Linked DNA regions of Homo sapiens. The protein of the gene in region 2 interacts with the protein of the main gene of each other region in a biochemical or structural test. Each region holds a gene or a part of one and is shown on either strand. Other genes may lie near its edges.

Region 1 (7,036 bases), on a different chromosome or scaffold from region 2:
GTGTTTGCTGCTTACTATTATTATTTGAGTGCTTTTAGATTTAACCAGTAATTGATTGATCTTAGGGATCAGGGTTGTTAATCTTTAATGCTGTATTAGTTAGTATGGGTGCTTCTTAGTGCATAAAAGGGAAAGGAGAAGGAAAAAGGAGATATAAAAGGAAGTTGAATAAAGAAGGATAAATATGGCTGGCTGCGGTGGCTCATGCATGTAATCCCAGCACTCTGGGACTTTGGGAGGCCGAGGTGAGTGGATTGCTTGAGTCCAGGAATTCAAGACCAGCCTGGGTAACAGTGAGACCCGTCTCTTAAAAAAACAAAAACCAAACAAAAACCCAGCCGGGCATGGTGGCATGCGTCTGTGGTTCCAGCTACTTGGGAGGCCAAGGTGGGAGGATTGCTTGAGTCTGGGAGGTGGAGGTTGCAGTGAGCTGAGGTTGTGCCACTGCACTCCAGCCTGGGTGACGGGAGTAAAACCCTGTCTAAAAAAAAGAAAAATATACTGCAGATAATTTTGATGAGGAGCGGGAGAGTGTATATTTCATGTGAGTTACTCACACTAATGTAGTTTCATGTTCTTTTGTTTCGTGATTTTTGCATCCAATCAACAACTCACAGTGTGTCAGTCTAGAAGTGCTCAGTGCTAGAAGTATAGTGGTGCATGAGGTAGTATAGGTTCATTTACAGGGATGTTAATAGGCATTTATAAATTGTTATGATTAATTGTTGTGAATGGTGCTATAGGAGCATGGTGGCATCTGACCAAGAGTTAGGTGGTTCTGTATTTTTATGTTTAATTATAACCCCTTTAGGATTATAATTTAAATTAATTTAAATATAAATCTTAAAATTTAGGTACATATTGGGTGGTGTTTCTTTTTATTCTTTCAGAAAACTGTTAAAGTATTTCATTGAATCTAAGATTCCAATTTCATAGAAGTCAAAATGTGGGGGAAAAATGGCTGATAATGATTCTAAGAGACTCAAAGATACATTCTGACTTTAGAGATGTTAACATGAAAAAAAGCATCTCAAATTAATGACTCTTTGGTACTTGTAATTGATAGCTTCTTAAAATGGAGGAGGACTCTAGTAAGAGAAGCTATAGTATCTGTTTATAAGTCAGTATGCTTTAGAGCAATCTGACTTTTTCATTATAAAAATGTAGGTTTTGGACTAGGCATTCTGGTGCTAAAACAGCTGCTGAGGCCAGCGATCACCCTGTTCTTTGTTCAGTTCCTCACGTTACTCATATAATTACCGTGTGATCGTGTGGTGCTCTGCTGCTTGTTGGTCAGAGCCTGAGTAAGGCTGAATAAGGCTGGATCATGAACCATTCTTTAAAGCAGTGGCCTTTGTATTGCAGTCTAGTTGACATACATGCATACATACAGGTGTGTGTGCACGTGTAACTGAAGAACAGCTTTCACAAAATAATATTTAGCACACTGTGGAATTTTCTCTGATACAGCCTCTTCTCTTTCATGATAAAAATAAATTCGCTGATTATCACACCACTTTGGACCTTTTAAAAATAACACTTAAGAAGTTGGAATAGCCAGGGATCAGAAACTTAGAAATGGACCTTATTTGTTATTGTAACTTATAGCAAGTCATTGTGTCTCTTATTGGGTTCTTTTAGCCATAATAATTGTGCTAGTTCTTTTCTTGCTCTGAGTGCCTGAACCTGTTGCTAAGTGAGGAAGAAAAATCCATATGTAAGTATAAATAAACAAATGTCTTTAATCTTTTTGCAGGTCATCATCAGATTTGAAATATTTAAAGTGGATACAAAACTATTTCAGCAATGCAGACAATTAAGTGTGTTGTTGTGGGCGATGGTGCTGTTGGTAAAACATGTCTCCTGATATCCTACACAACAAACAAATTTCCATCGGAATATGTACCGACTGTAAGTATAAAGGCTTCCTTCTGTTAGTAAAATGTTGTAAAATTTGATATCCTTTTGAAAACGCTTTCTCTATGTGTACTGAATTTTTTTCTGTTGTCTGCCTTTGTTTCCTGTTTTTAAAGATCTTGACTTCTCATGGGTAAATTATATACACTTTAAACAGCTGAAAAATCAGTGGAAAGTCAGAAGGGGTGACACAGGGTTTGCAAGAAGTGCTGGGAGGCAAAACTCCAGTAGACAAGATTCTAACGAGTGGTGGTCTCAATTTGGTGAAGTATGCCCTACATCTTGGAATGAGGTGACTTTTTTTTTTTTTTTTTTGATATTTTGGCCAATTATTGATCAGTACTTGGAGGTCTCCTGGGATACCATTTGAGGTCCTGTAACTTGAGAGAAAGTAGTATGTGTCTCCACTTTTCTTGTGGAGCTGTTCGCTTAGCAGTAATGGAGCTCCAAACTGGTTCTTAGGGGCAGAGAAGAGAAGACCTGTTATGTTTCGAGAACACCAACAGAGTCCTTTGGGGGTCACTCCCACAACTGTTCTTTTCTTTTTTTCTTTTTTTTTTTTTTTTTGAGATGGAGTCTCTATCGTCCATTCTATCTGGAGTGCAGTAGCGCGATCTCGGCTTGCTGCACCCTCCGCCTCCCGGGTTCAAGCAGTTCTCCTGCCTCAGCCTCCTGAGTAGCTGGGATTACAGGCGCCCGCCACCACGCCTTTCTAATTTTTGTATTTTTAGTAGAAACGGGGTTTTACCATGTTGGCCAGGCTGGTCTTGAACTCCTGACCTCAAATGATCCACCTGCCTCAGCCTCCCAAAGTGCTGGGATTACAGGCGTGAGCCACCATGCCTGGCCCCATAACTGTTTTTTAAATCAACTCTTTGGAATGGTAGAAGGAAGATGGGAATAACAAAAATATTGAAGTGAGAGAGAGACAAGAGTTAGAGTAACACTCATTTGTGAAAGGTAGTGAGACCCTGTCTCAAAAATAAGGAAAGTTTTTTTTTTGAAGGGGGGAGAATTTGAAGGTATTATTAAACACTAAAATCATATTGATATTTTGAATTGGCTCATTTGGAGACAAGATAAATGGAAGACGTTTTGAGGTTCAGTGGACTTACAGGGGACATTTAGAGGTACATGAATCTTGTTTCAGAGTGAGGACAGCTATCAGAATTTTTCTGTTTCAGTCTCCATTGAAGTTATTTACTTGTAAACATAATTTCTGAGTCTTTTATGACTTTGATCTTCTGGTGTTATATTTTAAGTGGGCTTGTGGGTGTTTTATATGTATGTTTGTGTTGTACATCTCTGGAAAAGTGATAGAGTGGAAGGAAGAGTAGTAGTAGAATAAAATTTTAAATGAACCGATTTAGGTAAATGAATGGACCATGAGGCACAAGTAATGTTCTCATGGTACCTGTTGAAGTTAATATGGAAATGGATTTGGTGTAGAATGCATTTAAGTTCCCATCTATGAGTTGGGGCTTGCCATTTCTAGAGTAATAGAAATTCAGAGCTGGATGGGACAATATATATTGTCTTACCCATCTCTTAATGGATGAGGGTACTCAGGCCCAATTTAGGGATGAGACTTAGAAGTCTAAGTTTAATTACTTAGCGTAATTACACTAGCATAAGTAGACTTTGGAATGGAAGCCAGCTTTTCTGATTCTTAGTCTAGTTTTGGATATGAACAATCTAGTAAAGGAGGGTTGTTTTTGAGTCTCTTAAGTGTGATTTAAGAAAATAATCTGTTTGGTTTGAGAGCTTAACCACATTCATTCAATTTCTTTGTTCCTGTTTTTAAGAACCGACTTTCCTTTAACTGTCATCTCCCTCATGCCCTTGCTTCTCTTCTTTACATTTAAATAAGCTCTGGAACAATCTGTTAAAACATAAGTCAGAAAATCAGAGTAGGTACCTAAAAGTTAAGTAGGGCTGGTCTTAAAATGTGGCATTCTTCTCCTAGTTGGAAAGCTTTGCTTTTCTTTTTATAGATATCATTTAATTTTAAAATTTTTACTGTAAATTGACAGATTATAGTTGTATATGAAAGCATTGCTTTTCAATTGTAAATTAATTCTAAAGACTCCAGAATTTGTGTTGGGTCTTTTCCCATTTAGCATTGTTAAACCTCCCATTTTCACAAATAACTTCGTACAACCGATATTAGCATATGCTTTACTGAATTTGATAAGGGTTTTATGGTCTATTTACATATTAAGCATCTTGTTAAAGAAGATGTCTTAGATCATGCAGTTTGTGCCCAATAACATGAATTTTACTCATAAAATTCCCAGCTGGCTGGGTGCAGTGGCTCACACCTGTAATTCCAGGACTTTGGGAGGCCGAGGCAGGTGGATCATGAGGTCAGGAGTTTGAGACCAGCCTGGCCAACATAGTGAAACTCTGTCTCTACTAAAAATACAAAAATTAGCTGGGTGTGGTGGCATGCACCTGTAGTCCCAGCTACTCAGGAGGCTGAGGTGGGAGAATCGCTTGATCCCAGGAGGCAGAGGTTGCAGTGAGCCGAGACCATGCCATTGCACTCCAGCCTGGATGACGCAGTGAGACTCTGTCTCAAAAAAAAACTTCCCAGCAAATAATCTGCCAGCTTTTTCTTGGACACTTTGAGTACTTTGAGGGAACCGTTATTTCTCTCAAATGGGCTTGTTTATAACAAGGCTCATCTTTTCTAGGACTCTGAAAGGAAGAAAGGTCATGGATCTAGGATATTTTATTTCTAGATGAAAAGGAAATGGTCTATGAAGAAGTAGTTTCTTAGGAATCAGATTGAATGTTGAGGTAGACCACTGTCTGAAAAGTTTCAAACTTGAACAGGTTCATTTTGTGTAGCTAGAGGACTCTGCTCCTGTGACACCTCTAAACCTTCTCTGGCTCTTTATCCAGGCTGCTGGGGTAGAGCAGAAATCTCAGAACACATCCTTTGTCTTTTTCCAGGAATCATTTAGCTCATGCAAGGACTGGTTGGCAAGATTGGTTATATAAGGATGATGGATGGACTAGGGGACGATTAAGTCTTAGCAAGGAAACACTGCCTTAGCTTAAGAGTTGTCCTGTCCCATTTTAACTCTCTCCTTGCACACTAACAGTGTTGTATTTTTTTGTTTTTAGGTTTTTGACAACTATGCAGTCACAGTTATGATTGGTGGAGAACCATATACTCTTGGACTTTTTGATACTGCAGGTGAAAACTTAATGTCTTTTATACTGTTTTGATCTTTAACAGTTGCTAGTTGTCTGTCTCTTGTGGACATTTTGAGAAACTAGCACATGAGCAAAGTACTTGCCTTTTGTTATTAGTTAGCAGGATTGAATATAATGATTGTCGATGCTTGACCAAGGAGCAGTCCCAGACCTGGGTCGGCAAATAGGAGTTTGGAGTACCCTGGGTGAACAGTGTAGTAGATGAAGTAGAGTGAGACTAGAGTGCATCATACAAGCTCCAAATTGAACTAAAATCCTGATGCGTGCACCTTGCAGAGAACTGGGGACTGCATTAGTGGTTGGGGAGGGACTAAGGGAATGAATTCATAGGAATCATGCCCACTGATTCTCTCCCTTCACCCCTACCTGCTCCTTTTTAAAGCCTAGAGTTTCCTAAATATGCCTAAGGTTATAAGGTCATAAGCCATTTACAGTATTTATTATTATTACTCTCTTGATATTTGAAGGCATATTCAATTTATGTGTCTAATAACATGTTTAGTTTCTTACGATAGATAGCTTATTTTAAACTGTATCTGAAAATATTTTGAGAGTGAACTATTATCTGCTCACAGTATTGACATTTGTCAGCTATCCAAATTGTAAGAACAAATTACTTTCTTCCTTAAATGTACCTAATTCCTCAGTGCTATTTCTTGTTTTCAAGAGTGGCTGCACATCTTAATTTCTGACTTTTCTCTATGTGCCGTCTTATTATCAGCTCAGTTAGCCAGAGGAAAATCTCAGAAAGATATCCTTTAGAGTATCTTTAGAATGTAGGAATTCTAAACTTTGTGCTTTGAGTTACTGTTACTGTTTGCAAGTTAACATGTTGCTTCCATGGAATGTGGTGTTACACTGTGTACCACGAGGAACTATTTGGATTTAATTGAGAACGTGAAATGGAGAGACAGTAAAGATTAGAGAAATTTTTAATACATTAAAATCATAAAAGTAATGGTATATTAAATTTGGAATATAGAGAAAACAATGACCCATAATGTCATGATAAATGAGGGGTTTTCTTCTGTGTTCATTTGTGTCCAAAGGCACAGAGAAAATTTTTATTTTTTTTTTTTGTTGAGATGGAGTTTTGCTGTTGTTGCCCAGGCTGGAGTGCAATGGTGCAATCTCGGCTCACCGCAACCTCCGCCTCCCAGGTTCAAGCGATTCTTCTGCCTCAGCCTTCTGAGTAGCTGGGATTACAGGCATGCGCCACCATACCCGGCTAATTTTTTTGTATTTTAGTAGAGGTAGGGTTTCTCCATGTTGGTCAGGCTGGTCTCGAACTTCTGACCTCAGGTGATCCGCCCGCCTTGGCCTCCCAAAGTGCTGGGATTACAGGTGTGAACCACTGCGCCTGGCGAGAAAAGATAATTTATGGCTACTTGTGGTTGAAAATTAGTATTTTCAGATTTCAAAGTTTATTATTTATAAGCCTTTACATTTTCTGGCGAGTACTTTTGAAAGCTTTTTTGATGCGTAGTGCAATAAAAATCATTTTAAGGCCAGGCGCGGTGGCTCACGCCTGTAATTGCAGCACTTTGGGAGGCTGAGACAGGCAGTTCACCTGAGGTCAGGAGTTTGAGACCAGCCTGGCCAGTATGGTGAAACCCCATCTCTACTAAAAATACAAAAATTAGCCCAGTGTAGTGGTGTATGCCTGTTAAGTCCCAGCTACTTGGGAGGCTGAGACAGGAAAATTGCTTGAACCCAGGGGGCGGAGGTTGCAGTGAGCCGAGATTCTGCCACTGCCCTCCAGCCTGGCTGACAGAGTGAGACTCCGTCTTTAAAAAAAAAAAAATCGTTTTAAGTGTTCAGTGTGATGCATTTTGCTGACCCTCCACCATAATAAAATGTGTAACATTTTTATCACCCCTCAAATTTTCTGTGG
Region 2 (7,036 bases):
GACTGTTTCCTCCCAATTGAGAAACTGCAAATAAAACGACTGTTTCCAAAAACTGACTGTGTTTATGCGATAACTTAAGTTTCAGATGACTCTGAAGACTGACAAGGTTCAACTGTTCAGCACCTTTCCACAGTCTATATTCAGTAAAATAGTACCAGAAGGAAAACTGAGGGATGGAGAGGAAAATATATGCTAGCAAGTTCTTTGTGTTCACGTTTGTATATGTTAACATTACCAAAACTAACTAAACTGTTCTGAAGGTCATTATAAATTTTAGTTACATTAAGTATCACATCAAGGAATTTCTATTTAATACGGCTTCTTCAACTAATCAGGTGGCTAGCTAAAAACACCTATTGAGTAGTTATTTACCTCTGATGGCTGTAATTTATTTTAGAAAGCAAAATAAAAACTGAGATTTGTCTTGGGTAACCTAAATTAGAACAAGAGATACAAGAAATAATATAATTAACTTACTGCTGGTGTTCCAGAAGGAAAGCCATCTTTCTCTGAATATGAAACAAAACATAACATTAGCAATTCAAGAAACAGCACTTTTATATGATAAAAGGAAAAAAAAAAAGCAGAGAAAGTGAAATGTTCTTAAACTGATTTCAAGTTGAATTAACTCTTGAGAAAAATGAACACGCAAGTAGTCAAATAAGAATTTATATAAGACCAAGGTAAGAAATCTGAAATCTACATGAAACTATAAATTTAGTAAAAATCAGTGAATTATATATTTAAAATGGGTGAATTGTATTGCATGTAAATTATACCTCAATAAAGCTATCAAAATTTAGTTTGAAAGTATACCTATCAATCTGTATTTATTAAAACAAAACAAATTTATTGATAAAGATACTTTCTCCAGAAAACTGCTGACTGAGGAACTTAATGCAACAATTAAGACAATGACAATTGTGCAAAGTAAAATTCTGACATTGTTTTGTTTTTCTTTTAAAAATGCCCAGAGACATACATATATGTGTGTGTGTGTGTATATGTGTGTGTGTATATATATATATATATGTGTATATATATATATATATATCACACACACACACACATATCACATATTACATACGCACAGGCCGGGCGCGGTGGCTCATGCCTGTAATCCTAGCACTTTGGGAGGCCGAGAGACAGGCAGATCACCTGAGGTTGGGAGTTCAAGACCAGCCTGACCAACATGGAGAAACCCAGTCTCTACTAAAAATACAAAATTAGCCAGGTGTGGCGGCGCATGCTTGTAATCTCAGCTACTCAGGAGGCTGAGGCAGGAGAATTGCTTGAACCCGGGAGGCGGGGGTTCTGGCAAGCCGAGATTGTGCCACTGCACTCCAGCCTGGGCAACAGAGTAAACTCCAGCTCAAAAACAAAACAAAACACACACACGCACGCGCGTGCGCACACACATATATGTATGTATGTGTACTAGGTGAAAATAAGCTACCATTTTGTGGTCAAACATTGGTTTTTCAAAAAAATTACTAATTTACACACAGACTTACTGGTTGATAGAAAAGTTCTAGGAGCAAGTGTGACCTTTTCCTAACGGTGTACTAGACTCAACAAAAAAAGGTCAAGATCACTTGAAAAAGATTTCTATTTCTCCCTTGCACATGGCCTTTGTTTCTGTGAGGATGCAAACAGTAAGTAAAATCAATTAAAACCACATGTACGATTTTAGCTCCATCATATTGCTTTTGAAAACCACATGTATGACTTCAGAGACAGACAAACATATTGAAAAATGACATCCTGAGGATGTAGTGAGCAAAATCTAAACTGAGGGAAACAGGACAAATGATCTTGTTTCTGTAATAAATAAACGTCAAGAAAAGACAGCATGAACCAGTGTGTGGGAGGGGAAGCCTAAAGATCAAAAGAGATTCAAGAGATGTATCAACCAACTGCGTTGTATGAACTTTATTCTGATCTTTATTTGAACAAAAACTATTTTTAAAAATCCACTACACCAACTCTTACACTATATACCAATTCACTGGTTCTCTCATAGGTTAACGGTATATCTCAGATACTGAGCAACTTGGAAAACAAAGTACATCAAACCCCATTTCCATCCAGCTATATTCATCCAGAAAGTAAAATTTGCATTACTGTGACTATGTAGATGATATTCCAGATATTCCATTTCTGAGGTATAAATCCTTTTAGTTCTAACGCTTCTTTCGTATATGATTTATCTGTTTTATATATTAAAATACATATATTCTATTATCTGCACACTTGCGAGTTTCAATTTTTTGAGTGGACCTAAACATTTTTTAGTTCAACCTCCTCTTGTCCCGCTAACAATAAATGTGTTTCTAGTATGAACATGTCTATCAACCAGCGTCTTTTCCTTTGATTGCTGGAAGTCATTTAAAAGCAGTGAAGAGTGAAAAATGAAAACAAAAACACAGCAATGAGGAGAAAAAACCAAATAAACAAAAAGCCAAAATATCCATCAACTCCCGTTTCTGGCAAACCTATGAGATTACTATAATTCACAGATCCAAATTATGCTTCAGAACTGCCCTGGATCAGTCTACAAAAGGTAGAATCTATCCAGGGAAAAACCGTTATCAACAAGAACCATAGTTTAGCTTTTCATTTTTCCAGGAGTAATCTTTTTATCTAGAAGTGCTTCACAAATCTCCATCTGATCCAGCCTTATGCCACTCTCTTACCAGGAGGAGTAAAGCTCAGATATTTCTGCTTCACTGTGTTGGAGTCGTAGAACTTTAGGACATCCAGCACAGCCTGAGGATTCTTCTTTTGCTCTAGTTTGGTGATATTGGAGGTCTGTAGTAATCGAGCCCACTGTTCTGGCATGCCCTAACAAGAAGATATTCAGAAATTAGTTATGGTTTAAATTGATGCAATAAAATTAATTTCCAGAGATAAATGACAAAATACACAAAACAAACCAATCTTTTGAGTGTAGGTTTGAGTAAATTTTAAAAGATCTCATTTTCTAAAGGTCTATTTTTTCTTTTTTCTTTTTTTGAGACAGAGTCTCACTCTGTCACCCAGGCTGGAGTGCAGTCGTGCGAGATCTCGGCTCACTGCAAGCTCCACCTCCCGGGTTCAGGCCATTCTCCTGCCTCAGCCTCCAGAGTGGCTGGGACTACAGGTGCCCGCCACCACGCCTGGCTAATTTTTTGTATTTTTAGTAGAGACGGGGTTTCACCATGTTAGCCAGGATAGTTTCAATCTCCTGACCTCGTGATCCACCCGCCTCGGCCTCCCAAAGTGCTGGGATTACACAGGCGTGAGCCACCGCGCCCGGCCTAGGTCTATTTTTTCTAAGTCTGTTTTGCATAACTATAATTAATAGGCTCTGCTCTCTAGGAAAACGATATATCCAACCACTAACACTTTTATAAAAAGCAAAAAGCAGTAAGAATTCATAGTTAACGTATAGATAGAAATGTTAATTTCCCTTTTTTTGAGACGGAGTTTCACTCTTCTTGCCCAGGCTGGAGTGCAATGGCACAGTCTCTGTTCACTGCAACCTCCATCTCCGAGGTTCAAATGATTCCCCTGCCTCAGCCTCCTGAGTAGTTGGAATTACAGGCATACACCCCCACGCTTGGCTAATTTTCTTGTATTTTTAGTAGGGATGGGGTTTCACCATGTTGGCCACACTGGTCTCGAACTCCTGACCTCAAATGATCTGCCAGCCTTGGCCTCCCAAAGTGCTGGGATTACAGGCGTGTGCCACCGCACCTGGCCTGAAATGTTAATTTCAAATTTAATAATGAAGGAAAATGTTTGAGTGCTATTTTAAACGTTATAAATGGGCCCGAACTAGGTTAACTTACAGTGAATTCTCCAGTAACAGCATCAAAGCCAACATGGATGGTGTGCTCAAAATCAGATGGAGGAGAAATTTCTGGCCGTTCCTTTTCTTTCTTTTTACTTCCTAGGGGGCATTAGAAAAAAAGAGAAAGAATCAGCCTATTTAAACAAGACTAGTAAAGGCACTTATAATTTTATTTTTTGTCTTTTGTTTTTTTAAATGGAGTTTCGCTCTTGTTGCCCAGGCTGGAGTGCAGTGGTGCAATCTCAGCTGACTGCAACCTCTGCTTCCCGGGTTCAAGCCATCCTCCTGCCTCAGTCTCCCAAGTAGCTGGGATTACAGGTGCCCACCACCATGCCCGGCTAATTTTTGTATTTTTAGTAGAGACAGGGTTTCATCATGTTGATCAGGCTGGTCTCAAACTCCTGATCCACCTGCCTTGGCCTCCCAAAGTGCTGAGATTACAGATGTGAGCCACCGCATGCCCGGCATATTATGTTTATATTTTTCCTAAAACATATTAGGATCAAAGTTATTCTAGAAAACACACTAGAATCAAAGTTATTCTAGAAAAGATTTCCCCTAAAAACTGGCTGATAGGAAACTAGTAAATGAAGTAAAGCAGACTGTCCTGCCATAGAGTAGGGCTGGACACAACCAAACACTGAGGAGGCACATGGAGTGACCAACGGCAGGCCTGAGTAACAGAGCACAGGCAGAAGAGACACCCCCTTCGGGCACCAGCTCTCTCACAAAGGGCTACATCTCAGATGCTGAGCAATGTGGACAGCAAACACAGCAAACCCCATTTCCACTCAGCTACATTCATCAGGAAGTCAGATTTGCATTACTGTGACTCCGCAGATAATACACACTGTCAAGACAAGTAGTTGACAAAACCACCTCTCCTTTTTTGTGCAAGCATAATCCTTTTTTAGTGGAGTTACTAATTGCCACATTTTAAAACTATGCAGTTTTTCTATGGTCCGATTGTAAATTATTTCTGCAACATTTCTGCCACACACCTATCAATAATGTTCTCTGTGAACTCCAACACATCAGTTCCTTCCCCCTACCCCCTCCCTCTCAGCTCCTCCTGCTCTAATCTGCAGTAGCTCATGCCTACGCTTCCTGCAGTTACCGTCCATGACATCCCTTCACTCCTGCCCTGTATGTGCTGGAATCTATTTTCTGGATCTTACGTTTTCCTCTTGATTTATCCCTTTAGTGATAGTTCTTCACTAATTTTATATATATATAAGTTGGAACCCTCAGCATTTCCAGTGTTGCCATTTAGAAGGCCAGCGCCATTTTGGTTCCTGTTTGGAGCCACTGTTGAAAGTCAATTGTCTGTACACGTGTGAGTCTATCTCTGAAGGCTCTGCTCTGTTGCAATTATCTGTTTGTCTGCCTTTATGCCACTATCAGACTGCCTTGATTATTTTATTGCCATTTTGTAATACGCATTGAAACTATGTCACATAAGTCTTCTTTTTCTTTTGTCAAAGCTGTTTGGGTAATCGAGGTCCTCTGCATTTCCCTATTAATTTTAGAATAAGCTTATTAATTTCTACAGAAAGCCTGTTGGAATTCTGACTAGAATTGGAATGAATGTACATACAGATGAATTTTAAGGAGAATTTCTTTCTTTCTTTCTTTTTCTTTTTTAACAGGGAGTCTCATTCTGTCGCCCAGGCTGGAGTGCAGTGGCGTGATCTCAGCTCACTGCAACCTCTGCCTCCCGGGTTCAAGCAATTCTCCTACCTCAGCCTCCTGAGGAGCTGGGATTACAGGCATGCACCATCATACCAGGCTGATTTTTATAATTTCTGGTAGAGATGGGGTTTCACCATGTTGGCCAGGCTGGTCTCAAACTCCTGGCCTCAAGCGATCCATCTGCTTTGGCTTGCCAAAGTGCTGGGATTACAGACATGAGCCACTGCACCTGGCTGAGAATTTATTTCTTGATTTCTTAACAACACCGAGTTTTCTGATCCATGAAAACAGCAAATCTTTTCATTTATTTAGGTCTTTAAAAATTTCTCTCAGCAGTGTTTGCAGTTGTCTTCATCCGTTCGGTACGCTTTATCAGAATACCACTGCCTATGCAATTGATTAATATAAACATTAGAAGCTGGCTGCGAGCAGTAGCTCATGCCTGTAATCCTGGCACTTTGGGAGACTGAGGTGGGCAGATCACATAAGGCCAGGAGTTCAAGACCCATCTGGCCAACATGGCAAAACACTGTATCTAAAATGCAAACTTCAGCCGAGTATAGCGGCACAAGAATTGCTTGAACCCAGGAGGTGGAGGCTGCAGTGAGCCGAGATTGTGTCACTGCACTCCCCAGCCTGAGTCACAGCGTGAGACTGCCTCAAAAAAATAAAAGTTCATTTGGCTCACAGTTCTCCTGGAGGCTGGAAAGTCCTCCAGGTCAAGGACCAAGAAGCCACACCTGGTGAGGGTCCTTCTTGTTGTGTCATAACGTAGCCGAAGGCATCACATTGCAAGAAAGAGAGCAGGAGAGGGCCAAACTGGCTTTTATAAGCAACTCGCATCCACAATAAAGACATGAGTCCATCCGTGAGCACTCGCGTCGCCTCTTGAAGGTCCCATGTCTCAACACTCTCTTACTGGGGCTTCAGTTTCTAACACATGAACTCTGGGGGACACTTAGAAACAGAGCAGTAGTTATCAGTGCAGAGCGCACACTGTTTCATCAGATTTCTGCCTCGGTATTTCCTGGTTTTGATACTATTGCAAATGGCAGTTTTAAAATTCCCTTTTTAATCATTCATTGCAGCCATAAAGAAACACAGTTGTTTCTTGAATACTAATCTTATATCCTGAAACCTTATTACACTTACTTCCACTAGTATTTTTGTAAATATACAATTTTGCTACAAAAATTCAATCATGTTGTCGGTGAATAAAATCAAGTTTACTTCTTTCCAATCTGGATTCCTTTTATTCGTTTTCTTAAAAAAAATTTTTTTTTGCCTTACTACATTAGCTAGACCCTTCAGTACATTGTTGAATAAAAGTGGATGAAGAGAAATTTTATTTTTCCTGATCTAAGAGGAAAAACTGTCATTCTTTTTACCCTTAAGTTTAATGCCAATGGTAGGTTTTTAAAAGATGTCCTTTATGAGGCTAAAGGGCATTCTCTTCTATTCCAAGTTTGCTGAACACTTCTATCAGCAATGGATACTGGGTTCCGTCAA
Region 3 (7,036 bases), on a different chromosome or scaffold from region 2:
AGCCTAGGTGACAAAGCACGATCCCATCTCAACAATAAAAAAATAAGTGGGCAGTGGCATAGGGAAATACGTTACCTCTTCTTGTTAAGGACATGGGGACTAGATCCTACTTGGAAAGTCACAGGTTTTAAATTGCCCAGAAAGCACTGGATTTTAGAAGAAGCCTCCAACTGCAGTGTGGCAGGAAGCCTGAGGACGCCAGGGACTCAGTCAAGGCAGACACACATGGAAGCTGTTGCTACAGTCCAGGAGCCATCCATGGTGGCCTGGACCAAGAATGGGGACTGGACAGTGAACATAAGTGGGCTGTTTCCTGGACTGCTTGAACTTGGAGGCAGATCAAGCATCGCTTACCCATGGTTTGGATGTGGCAGCTGAGGAAGAAAGTGGAGCCTAAGGCTCTAAGGGACCTTTTTAAAAATGATAAAGGTTGGCTGGGCTCGGTGGCTCACACATGTAATCCCAGCACTTTGGGAGGCCAAGGCGGGCGGATCACCTGAGGTCAGGAATTCGAGAAGAGCCTGACCAACATGGAGAAACCCCTCTCTACTAAAAATACAAAATTAGCCGGGCGTGCATGCCTGTAATCCCAGCTACTCGGGAGGCTGAAGCAGGAGAGTCGCTTGAACCCGGGAGGCGGAAGTTGCAGTGAGCCGAGATTGCGCCATTGCACTCCAGCCTGGGCAACAAGAGCAAAACTCCGTCTCAAAAAAAAAAAAAAAAAAAAAAAAAAAAAAAAAAAGATAAAGGTTGTGTAAAAACCTTAACAATAGTTGCCACTCAGTGTCAAGGATAAGCTGCTATGAAGGTTTTGACTGTTATGATAAAATGTCATTATCACTTCTTTTACTATTCTGTCCTAAGTCTCTATGTATATGAGGAACAAAACTACTAATATAAAGGCAACCAGCTGTGTCTAAAATCCTCTAAACTTCCTTTCCTGAATGACATCTTTAGCTGAGAAAGGCTCAACCGGGAAGAAATTCAAGGTACTGGCATAATCTGATACTGACTGAAATTTTATTACCAATCACTATTTGTTACAAATCTATGTCTTATAAGAATATGATTATTAAACTACAGAATTCTTAAAGTGCAACCTTATATTTAAGCTTAGTGCAATCAAAAGATAAAATCGACTCCTCTTTAAGTCTTCTGATTAAAACTTTTACTTAATTTATTCAAATAGGTAAAAGAAAAAGGTTATTCCACTCCTATTAGTGTATATTCATTCCTTGTCCACGCTGCGCTTCCACAAACCAAGTCAACATCTGCACTGGGCAATGTGACAGCCTTTCCATGGCCTTTCCCTCATGAAGAATGGAAGCCGTATTTGGCCACAAGTCTTGACTGATACTGCTGGAGAATTTCTGGTAGTTACTACTTCTTTGGAATTTCTAACTTTATATAATTAACTGCTCAGTTCAACCTCTTTTCAATCATCGAGCAATGTCATCACTCTAGGAAACGAACATGAGTCGGCTGGAAGAAAGTTCATGCCATTTCTACATTGGATTTCCCCCTAGCTCATGATGCTACAATTTTTTTTAACCTATCTGTGCTTCCCCTGCCCTGTCCTGTAGAAATAACCACAATGAAAGCAAATAACTTATGTTGCTATTATGTTCTTCATTTTTCCATTAAGAGAACTTTAAGACGGAGTCTTGGCTCTGTCTTCCAGGCTGGAGCCCAATGGTGCAATCCTGGCTTACCACAACCTCTGCCTGCTGGGTTCGAACAATTCTCCTGCCTCAGCCTCCCAAGTAGCTGGGACTACACGTAAGCACCACCACATCCAGCTAATTTTTTTTTGTTGTTGTATTTTCAGTAGAGACAGGGTTTTGCCATGTTGGCCAGACTGGTCTCGAATTCCTGACCTCAGGAGATCCACCCCATCGGCCTCCCAAAGTGCTGGGGTTACAGGCGTGAGCCACCACGCCCAGCCAAGAGAACTTTTTACTTACTTTTTGAGGAGAGTAGGGTAAACTTTAGTGTTACTTCCTGAAATCTATAAACCAAAACTTAAAAGCACAATCAACAAATCTAGAAACGCTAGGAATTTCCTCACGTTAAAAAAATAAAAGATCCAAGAAGCTCAAAAAATAACAACTTTCTGCACTGCCTTCTTTTAAAGACACGTTGATCTCAGGACAGAAAAGCCAAACTCTTCCAATGACAATTACAATTGCAAACCAAAATACAGAGCATATATTGCTGTCTAAAAGTGAGTAGATCTTGGCCAGGCGCAGTGGCTCTTCCCTGTAATCCCAGCAAGAGGCCAAGGCGGGTGGATCACTTCAGGCCAGGAGTTCGAGACCAGACTGACCAACACAGCGAAACTGCATCTCTATTAAAAATACAAAAAATTAGCTGAGTGTGGTGGCAGGCGCCTGTAATCCCAGCTACTCAGGAGGCTGAGGCAGAAGTATCGCTTGAGGCCACGGGGTAGAGGTTGCAGTGAGCTGAGATCGCATCACTGCACTCCAGCCTGAGCAACAGAGCGAGACTCTCTGACTCAAAAAACAAAAAAAAGTATGTAGATCTTAAGGACAAGGCAGTAGAATTTAGTAACTGTCAAATATATATTCCTACTTATTGAATAAATTAAAGACCTCGCATGAAGGTCCTCGATTTACACTGACAAACAAGGTATGGGGATTCTGTAACGGTAGGCCTTATATATAACTGCGTTAACTATGCAGATAAAATCTGTCCAGAAAAATACACCACTAGAGTAGTGCAGTGCTAAATAAACACAAAACCCAATCTAAAATTATGATGTTCTACTACCAATATCTGACTTCACAATCAATGTAAAGAAAGCTAGCCATAAGCCAGGCACGGTGGCTCATGCCTGTAATCCTAGCACTTTAGGAGGGCAAGGTGGGCGGACTGTCTGACCTTAGGAGTTCAAGACCAGCCTGGGCAGCACAGTGAAACCCCGTCTCTACTAAAATACAAAAGAAATTAGCTGGGTGTGGTGGCACACGCCTGTAATCTCAGCTACTCAGGAGGCTGAGGCAGGAGAATTGCTTGAACCTGGGAGGCAGAGGTTGCAGTGAGCTGATTTCGTGCCACTGCACTCCAGCCTGGCGACAGAGCAAGACTCTGTTTCTACCAAAAAAAAAAAAAAAAAGCCAGCAATTATTACCACTAGAAGCTTCAAAAAATTAAGATAGTGCATAAAGTTTCTCACTTAGGCTGAAGACACTATGTACAACTGAGCTGAAGTCTGAATCCACCCTTCCAGAATCAAGGCTAACCCTGGTGTAGTTGATACAAGCCAGCTGAACACACAAGAGTTCAAAAATAAGAATTTATATGTAACTGCACACAGTCCCTATTCTTTTTCAAAATCAGGCCGGGCATGGTGGCTGACGCCTGTAATCCCATCACTTTGGGAGGCCGAGGCAGGTGGATCACCTGAGGTCAGGAGTTCCAGACCAGCCTGGCCAAGATGGTGAAACCTGTCTCAACTAAGAATACAAAAATTAGCCAGGCATGGTGGTGGGTGCCTGTAAGCCCAGCTACTCAGGAGGCTGAGGCAGGAGAATCGCCTGAACCTGGGATGCGGAGATTGCAGTGAGCAGAGATCATGCCATTGCACTCCAGCCTGGGCAACAGAGCAAGACTCCACCTCAAAAAGAGCAAAACAAAACAAAACAAAAAACAAAATCAACTCCTCTATAAATCCTCTTAAAAGGTTCCCTCTGATAACAGGAAGACATGATAAAGCAAATACAGCAAAATGAACAAGTAGAGCAAAATACTGTCATAGAATCCAGGCCATGGGTATGTGCATGTTGACTGTACAATGCTTTCCACTAGTCTGTTTGAAATTTTTCATATTAAGACATTGCAGGAAAATATTCCTACTGATCACATGCAATCCTGCCTTGGTGGCAAAGACTCTTGACAAAAACATCTCCTTTCAAGGAAGACTACAATTTTAAGAGCTACGTAGTGATGGAGATGTGAAAAAGTAGGCAGTACTAAGGTATCAGATGACTAATGCAAAAAGACAGAAAGTTATAAAGGGTGAATTTAAGGTTTCTAAAAATGGCTTCCTGATGCTCCTCCCACTTAGCCCAACTCCAAACTTTTACTGTAACTATCATTTGAAATTAAAACACACACACACACACACATTATGTATAATTTTTTTGGCTTATCAAGAAAAAAAACCACATTATGTATAAAATCATCAACAAAGATCAGAGCCATATACTACACCTACATTTGGAGGCCAGTGCAGAATTCAAATACCTTTACCACAGGTCAAAAATATGAAACCCCATGCCTTGAGAGGAAAACACACAAAACAGCTGAAAAGCTTAAACAAATTCATGGTTCACGCCACCACCGTTCAACAGAAGTAAAGAATAAATGTAAAGAATGTTCCTGTAAGGATGATGTCACGGAAGGCATTTTTCACATTCAGCTAAGAAACTCCTGGACAGTAATGTATGTCCAAGTCAGACATTGGGCTAGACAGGCCACTAGCCCAATCTGGACTCCACTTTGTATAAAGAGTGAAACAGAGAGGGCTTCAAGTCATTCGTTCCCATTCCTTTAATCAACCAACACCAAAACAACACTATTAAAATAGTTGTGGCCGGGCGCAGTGGCTCGGGCCTGTAATTCCATCACTTTGGGAGGCCAAAGCAGGAGAACTGCTTGAACCCAGGAGGCAGAGGTTGCCATGAGCCCATATCATGCCACTGCACCCCGGCCTGGGTGACAGAGCGAGACTCCATCTCAAAAAATAGTAATAAGCAATAAAAAAATAAAAAATAAAATAATAAAACTGTTGTTTAGGCCAGGGACGATGGCTCACGCCCATAATCCCAGCACTTTGGGAGGCCAAGGCGGGCAGATCGCCTAAGGTCAGGAGTTCGAAACCAACCTGGTCAACATGGTGAAACCCTGTCTCTATTAAAAATACAAAAAATTGCCAGGCGTAGTGGCTCATGCCTGTAATCCCAGTACTTTTTGAGAGGCTAAGGCAGGTGGATAACCTGAGGTCAGGCGTTTGAGACCAACCTGGCTAACAAGGAGAAACCTCGTCTCTATTAAAAATACGAAATTAGTCAGTGTGGTGGAGCGTGACTGTAATCCCACCTACTCGACAAGCTGAGGCAGGAGAATCGCTTGAACCCAGGAGGAGGAGGTTGCAGTGAGCCGAGATCGCACCACTGCACTCCAACCTTTGCAAAAAGGGCGAAAACTCCTTCTCAAAAAAAAAAAAAAAAAAAAAATTACCTCGGCATGGTAGCAGGCACGTGTAGTTCCAGCTACTTGGGAGGCTGACGCAGGAGAATCACTTGAACCCAGGAGGTGGAGGCTGCAGTGAGCCAATATAAAATAAAAACAAATAAATAATAAAAGTTGTTTATAAATACCTGAATGTAAGATGCTGTCTTTTTTTTCCTTTTTGAGACGGAGTCTCACTCTGTTACCCAGGCTGGAGTGCAGTGGCACGATATTGGCTCACTGCAACTTCCACCTCCCTTGATTCAAACAATTCCCCTGCCTCAGCCTCCCGAGTAGCTAGGATTACAGGCGCCCCCCACCATCCTTGGCTAATTTTTTTGTATTTTTAGTAGAGACAGGGTTTCACCATATTGGCCAGACTGGTCTCGAACTCCTGACTTCAGGCAATCCGCCTGCCTTGGCCTCCCAAAGTTCTGGGATTACAGGCATGAGCCATCGCGCCCGGGTGATGCTGTCTTACCTAGGAAAAGCTGAGAGAAAATCTTGGGGCAAAGGTCCACTAAGTGAAAGTTAAAAGGTGGGGCAGCAGTAAGGTGGAGGAAAAAAAAATTATAGACCCCATGCTCAGAAAGGACTATCTTAGAATAAAAGAGTATCAACCCTATGTAATATTTCTTGGCCAATCTCAATTAAATTGCTATTCAGGAAATCTAGAATTTTCTAACATGCTTTGCAAATTATTTCTGACTTTTTTTCTTTTTTTTTCAAGACAGAGCCTTGCTCTTGTCGCCCAGGCTGGAGTGCAGTGACACAATCTCAGCTCACTGCAACTTCCGCCTTCCGGGTTCAAGTGATTCTCCTGCCTCAGCATCCTGAGTAGCTGGGATTACAGGCGCCCACCACCACGCCCGGCTAATTTTTGTACTTTTAGTAGAGACAGGGTTTTGCCATGTTGGCCAGGCTGGTCTCGAGCTCCTGACCTCAGGTGATCCGCCTGCCTCGGCCTCCCAAAGTGCTGAGATTACAGGCATGAGCCACCGCACCTGGCAGACATATTTTCATACGGGTGTATTATCAGTCTCTATCAGTCAGGGTCCCAGAAGGAAAAAACTCATCCCAGAAGATTGAAATAGAGATTTTCATGAAGGAATTATTTACACAGCCCTGTATGCAGAGTTAAGGAGCAAACAAGATGGCAAGGCATCCAATTCTAGAAATGATAAGACAGAACCATCCCTAGGGATGATGAGACAAGGAGCAGGAGTTTCCTTAAGAGCCCAGTGTAAGCAGAGGCACAGGAGGGCAGGATGGAGGGACGTACAGCCTGAAAGGACACTGCCATGGTCCAGGCAAAGGGTCAAAGCAGGAACAGATGAAGATGTATCTCCTTTAAAAACAAACAAACAAAAAAAGACAGTTTCCCTCTGTCACCCAAGCTGGAGTGCAATGGTACAATCTTGGCTCACTGCAACCTCCACCTCCCAAGTTCAAGCGATTCTCCTGCCTCAACCTCCTGAATAGCTAGGATTACAGGCGTGCCCAGCTAATTTTTCTATTTTTAGTAGAGACGAGGTTTCGCCATATTGGCCAGACTGGTCTCAAACTCCTGACCTCAGGTGAACCGCCCACCTCGGCCTCCCAAAGTGCTGGGATTACAGGCTTGAGCTACCGTGCCCGGCCAAAGACGTATCTCTAATAGTTTTTGTTTTTGCTTTTTTGAGACAAGGTCTCACTCTGTCGCACGGGCTGGAGTGCAATGGCACAATCTCAGCTCACTACAACCTCCACCTCCTGGGTTTCAAGCGATCCTCCCACCTTAGCC

The links. The genes of interacting proteins can lie anywhere in the genome.
Region 1: the proteins of PAK2 (region 2) and CDC42 form a complex in vitro, tested with the Homo sapiens proteins (4 studies listed by BioGRID, with this or other methods).
Region 3: the proteins of PAK2 (region 2) and RAC1 form a complex in vitro, tested with the Homo sapiens proteins (2 studies listed by BioGRID and IntAct).

What each region holds. Positions count from the first base shown.
Region 1 is NC_000001.11:22,076,673-22,083,708, forward strand, and holds part of CDC42 (cell division control protein 42 homolog isoform 1 precursor), read left to right. Parts: intron 1-1,756; 5' UTR 1,757-1,806; coding exon 1,807-1,911; intron 1,912-5,049; coding exon 5,050-5,122; intron 5,123-7,036. UniProt on the Homo sapiens protein: Plasma membrane-associated small GTPase which cycles between an active GTP-bound and an inactive GDP-bound state. In active state binds to a variety of effector proteins to regulate cellular responses. Involved in epithelial cell polarization processes.
Region 2 is NC_000003.12:196,798,825-196,805,860, reverse strand, and holds part of PAK2 (serine/threonine-protein kinase PAK 2), read right to left. Parts: intron 3,935-7,036; coding exon 3,834-3,934; intron 2,845-3,833; coding exon 2,697-2,844; intron 510-2,696; coding exon 478-509; intron 1-477. UniProt on the Homo sapiens protein: Serine/threonine protein kinase that plays a role in a variety of different signaling pathways including cytoskeleton regulation, cell motility, cell cycle progression, apoptosis or proliferation.
Region 3 is NC_000007.14:6,377,491-6,384,526, reverse strand, and holds part of RAC1 (ras-related C3 botulinum toxin substrate 1), read right to left. Parts: intron 1-7,036. UniProt on the Homo sapiens protein: Plasma membrane-associated small GTPase which cycles between active GTP-bound and inactive GDP-bound states.